2 separate regions of the Homo sapiens genome follow, and region 1 is linked to region 2. The links come from fine-mapping of genetic effects on gene expression. A gene starts in region 2. The other region holds a variant in brackets. All regions are shown on one strand. Distances are between the middles of the regions.

The links.
Region 1: its variant is fine-mapped to the expression of TERB2 in liver (GTEx, PIP 0.96).

The regions. Positions count from the first base shown.
Region 1 is chr15:44,303,461-44,306,374 of GRCh38, forward strand. The region is part of intron 1 of GOLM2 (golgi membrane protein 2); the gene reads left to right. Among named protein-coding and RNA genes, the nearest start is that of GOLM2, 16 kb to the left of the region's middle. The variant C/T (reference allele first, on the strand shown) is at 1,664.
Region 2 is chr15:44,955,268-44,958,111 of GRCh38, forward strand. It overlaps TERB2 (telomere repeat binding bouquet formation protein 2), which reads left to right and starts at 1,420. Exons shown (of 7, transcript NM_152448.3): 1 at 1,420-1,515; 2 at 1,629-1,710. The coding sequence starts at 1,452.

The DNA of each region.
Region 1 (2,914 bases), 650 kb before region 2:
ATTTTTCTGATTCAATTTAGTGTTTAAGTGAAGAGAACAAAACCTTGGGATTAGCTTCATGGGGATATAATGAAAAAAAGTTTGAGTTATAAGCATAGCTTGGATTTTTGTTTGTTTTTTTTGGTGACAGGGTCTCATTCTGTCACCCAGGCTAAACTGCAGTGGCATGATCATGGCTCACTGCAGCCTTGACCTTCTGGACTCAAGCAATCCTCCTGCCTCAGCATCTGGAGCAGCTAGGACTACAAACTTGTGCCATCACACCTGGCTAATTTTTTTTTTTTTTTTTTTTTTGAGACAGAGTCTCGCCCTGTCACCAGGCTGGAGTGCAGTGGTGTGATCTCAGCTCAACGCAACTTCCACCTCCCAGGTTCAAGCAATTCTCGTGCCTTAGCCTCCTGAGTAGCTGGGATTACAGACATGCACCACCAGGCCTGGCTGATTTTTGTATTTCAGTAGAGACAGGGTTTTGTTGGCCAAGTAGGTCTCAAACTCCTGACCTTAAGTGATCCGCCTGACTCGGCCTTCCAAAGTGCTAGGATTACAGGTGTGAACCACGGTGCCTGGCCACACCTGGCTAATTTTAAAATTTTGTAGAGATGTGGTCTTGCTATGTTCCCCAGGGCTGGTCTTGAACTCCTGGCCTCAAGTAATCCTCCCACCTCAACCTCCCAAAGTCCTGGGATTACAGGCATAAACCACCATGCCTGGCCTATTCAAGTTTTATCATGAGATTGCAGTAATTCAGTCACGTCTTCAGGCTCCACTTCTTTTTTTTTTTTTTTTTTTTTTTTTTTTTGAGACAGAGTTTCACTCTTGTGTCAAGGCTGGAGTGCAATGGCATGATCTCGGCTCACTGCAGCCTCCGCCTCACAGGTTCAAGCAATTCTCTTGTCTCAGCCTCCTGAGTAGCTGGGATTACAGGCGCCCACCACCACACCTGGCTAATTTTTGTACTTTTAGTAGAGACAGGGTTTCACCAGGTTGGCCAGGCTGGTCTCAAACTCCTGACCTCAAGTGATCTGCCCTCCTCAGCCTCCCAAAGTGCTGGGACTACAGGCATAAGCCATCGCTCCCAGCCCTCCAGGCTCTACTTCTATTTCTAGTTCTCTCTCTTTCTCTCTTACTCAGTCACTTAGGCTGAATGCAGTGGTGCAATCACAGCTCACTGTAGCCTCAACCTCCTGGGGTCAAGCAATTCTCCCACCTCAGCCTCCTGAGTAGCTGGGCCACAGGCCTGAGCCATCACTCCTGGCTAATTTTTAAAAAATGGTTTGTAGACCAGGGTCTTGCTATGTTGCCCAGGCTGGTTTCAAACTCCCATACTCAAGTGATCCTCCTGCCCTGGCTTCCCAAAGTACTGGGATTACAGGCATAAGCCACCGTGCCTAGCCTAATTCTAGGTCTCTTGCTATTTGTACCACATCTGCAGTTACTTCCTCCACTGAAGTCTTGAATCCCCTCAAAATCATTCATGAGAGTTGGAATCAACTTATTCCAAACTCATGTTCCTGTTAATATTTTAGCCTTCTTCTATGAATCACAAATGTTCTTTTTTTTGAGGCACAGTCTCTGTTGCCCAGGCTGGAGTACAGTGGCACAATTCATGGCTCACTGCAGCCTTGACCTCCCTGGACTCAGGTGATCCTCCTATCTCAGCCTT[C/T]CGAGTAGCTGGGACTACAGGCACATGCCACCATACCTGGCTAATTTTGTATTTTTTGTAGAGGTGGAGTTTTGCCATGTTATCCAGGCTGGTCTCAAAATCCTAGGCCCAAGCAATTTGCCTGCCTTGGCCTCCCAAAGTGATGGAATTAATGGCCACTGTGCCCAGCCACAAATTATTATAATTTTTTTTTTGAGACAGAGTCTTGATCTGTCACTTAGGCTGGAGTGCAGTGGTGCGATCTCGGCTCACTACAACCTCTACCCCCTGAGCTCAAGTGATCCTCCCACTTCAGCCTCCGAGTAGCTGGGACCACAGGTATGGGCCTCTACACCTGGCTAATTTTTCTATTTTTAGTAGAGACAGGGTCTCCCCATGTTGCCCAGGCCCGTCTTGAACTCCTGAGCCCAAGTGTCCACCCGCCTCTGTCTCTCAAAGTGCTGAGATTATAGACGTGAGCCACTGCACCCAGCCTCTACAAATGTTCTTAATGGCATCTAGATTGGTGAATTCTTTCTAGAAGACTTTCAATTTATTTTGCCCAGATCCATCAGAGGAATTACATCATGGTAGGTATAGCCTTATGAAAGGTATTTGTTAAATAATAAGATTTGAAAGTAGAAATTACTCCTTGCTCCATGGGTTGCTGTTAGCAGACATGAAAAGATTAATGTCCTTGTAAATCTTCATCAGAGATCTTGGGTGACCAGGGACATTGTCAGTGAGCACTAGTATTTTGAAAGGAATCTTTTTTTTAAGTAGTATATCTCAACAGTGAACTGAAAATATTCAGTAAACCATGCTGTAAACAGATGTGCTATCATACAGGCTTTGTTGTTCCATTTATAGAGCGCAGATAAAACAGATTTAGCACAATTCTTAAAAGCTAGGATTTTAGGAATGGTAAGTGAGCGTTGGCTTCCACTTAAAGTCACCAGCTGTCCCTAACAGGAGAATCAGCCTGTCCTTTGAAGCTTTGAAACCAGATATTGACTTCTCTGCAGCTATGAAAGTTCTAGATGGCATCTTCTTCCAATAGAAGGCTGTTTCATTTACATGGAAAATGTGTTGTTTAGTGTAGCCACCTTCAGTGATCTTAGCTAGATTTTCTGGATAACTTGCTGCAGCTTTTTCATCAGCACTTGCCACTTCCCCTTGCACCTTTATGTTATGGAGATTGCTTTTTTTTTTTAAACTTCATGAACCAACCTCTGCTGGCTTCCGACTTTTCTTGTACAGCTTCTTTACCCT
Region 2 (2,844 bases):
CAATACTCATATGGGAAATCTGAAAATACTTTGAATTGAATAATAATAAAAAATGACCTCTTAAAAACATGTGACACACATTTCAAAGGAAATTTATAGCTTTATATGCACATATTAGAAAAATAAAGGATCAAAAACAATTATCTAGTTCAAGAAATTAGAAAAATAACAGCCTTTTTTTTTTTTTTTTTTTTTTTTTTTTTGAGATGGAGTGTTGCCCTGTCACCCAGGCTGGAGTGCAGTGGCGTGATCTCAACTCACTGCAACATCTGCCTCCCGGGCTCAAGCGATTCTCCTGTCTCAGCTTCCCTAGTAGCTGAGATTACAGGCATGCGCCACCACACCCGGATATTTTTTGTATTTTTAGTAGAGATGGGGTTTCACCATGCTGGCCAGGCTGGTCTCGAACTCCTGACCTCAAGTGATCCCCCGACCTAGGCCTCCGAAAGTGCTGGGATTACAGGCATGAGCCACTGCGCCCAGCCTAAGAACAGCAATTTTAAAGAAAGAAAAGTGGAAGGAAATTATAAAGAGCTAAAATTAATGATATAGAAAAGAAATACATGAAGAGAATATCAATAAAACCAGAAGTATGTTCTTTGAAAAGGCTAAAAAATTGACGAAGTTCTAATCAGATTAGGAAATAAAAAAAGGGAAGGCACAAATGACCAGTATCAGAAATGAAAAAAAGATTGTCAGAGAGGTGACTAAAGTAGGAGGAAAAATTTAAAAACAAGGACAAAAAAATGAGAACAAGAACCATGACTAGAGATCCCTCAGATATTAAAAAAGTAAAAGACTTTATGGACAACTTTATATAAACAATTTTTTAATGTTTAAAGGAAGACAACACCAGAAAAATATAACTACTTATCACAACTGATGTAAGAGGTGGGAAACTGTAAAAGGAAAACAATTTTGAGTAAAACAGAAATTTGAACACTGGTGCTATTTGACTATATTAAAGAACTATCTTTTAAGTGTGAGAATGGTGTCGCGGTTGTGTGTATGTTTTTTAAGTCCTCACTTTTCAGGGATTCAAAGTGAAACATTTATAGATGAAATGATGAAATGAATTTTGCTTCAAAAATAATACTTGATGCTGCAGAATCTGCCCTATGCCTGTAAACATAAAGCATGGTAACTTTGTTAATATTTAGGGTTTAAAACTCCCCACCTCAAAATTTAAAACAAAACCAACCAAACAAAAAACCCTCACCAACTCGAGTCGCCGCCCTCCTCTTATCAGGGGAAGGCTGAGAGGCCCCTAAGTGATCCCGAGAACCAGTCAGCTCAGTCTGGTAGTGACTGTCCCTTATCTGAGGGCCTCAGGCCCTTCCCGGCCATTCCTCTTGAGAACCAATCATCGAGCTTGACTTTGGACCTGGAACCAATCAGGGATCTCAGCTCTGCGGCCTCCTCTCTCACATCTCCACAGGCTTGGCGACGCCATGTTTCAAGGGCAGCGCGGTTGGTTTTGCGGCAGCGTTAGCCAGGATCTGAGGCAATTCTGGGGTAGGAAGCTGAGTGGAAGCAGCGGGTTAGGTGGTGAGGGGAGCATCCTCCTCTCTCTGATGCTTTGGGTCCAGGGTGCTTGATAGGTTCACCCTGTGCTCTTACCTCCACAGTGGCTGAAGGGGGAACGATCAGTGACCCGCGAGCCGCCGACTTCTTGTTCAGCTGTGATGCCTCGCACCCAGACACGCTGAGGTACTGAGGGCGACCTGGCAGTGCCTCTTATGTTAGGATGAGCCGGGAGTTAGGGATGGAAGTTGCAGTCCACTAATAAATATTGATGAGGCTGGGCGCGGTGGCGGACACCTATAATCCCAGCTACTGGGAAGACTGAAGCAGGAGAATCGCTTGAACTCGGGAGGCGGAGGTTGCAGTGAGCCAAGATCGCACCACTGCACTCCAGCCTGGGTGACAGAGCAAGATTCCATCTCAAAAAAAAAAAACATAAATAAAGTAATAAAATACAATAAAATAAAAAATAAATAAATAATATTGACGATAGGGTGAGACTGAAAACGAGCAAGTTTTCAGTCCTAGATTTGAGGGAAAGAAATAGACAACCTCCTTTCCTTTCTGCTGCAGTGTCACAGGCTTCTCCCTGGTCCTCGGGCCTCTTCCTGAATTCCAAGTGTGTGTTTCCAGCTGCCTCTTCTACACCCGCATGTAGCGCCTTGAAGGCCCCTCATACTCAATGTCTAAATCAAATCTTGTCATTTCCCCTCATACCTGCGCCAGGGCCTGTGTTCTCCAAAACTTTGAATAACTTTGAATAACAACCCTACGCCATGAATCAGTCAGAGGCCGAATACCATGAATTAGATCCCTGTAATTGTTCTTCATCCTCACTGACACTAACTTAGTAGCACCTTAATTCCGTTTTCGCCGGGACTATCAGAGTAACTTCCTAAGCCGTTACTGTGCCTCGAATCTGTTCCCTGAGATCCCCCTTCGCATGGCTATCAGATTTCGTTTACAAACCAGACATCAGATCAGGGCCCTACCACCCTCCTTTCCTCACTCCCGCCCCCACCCCCAAGCTGCTGATTTCCTACAGATTTAGATCGTGGCTGTGCCTGCCTTGTTTATTTCCCAGTTTTTCTCATGACTTCCGTAGCCCAGTCAACCCGAACTGCCATTATTGTTCATGCATGCCTTTTTCTTGTAATGCTCTTCTTATCTCCACCTATAGAAAAGATGTTGCTTTCTATATGTGAAGCTTTCTCTGACTGCATGCACACTCCTCACCTCAGGATTAATTGATCCCTCTTTATAGCAATGACCATGGATAAGCCCCATAGGCTGCTAGCTCAATCCACTGTTGATGCCCAG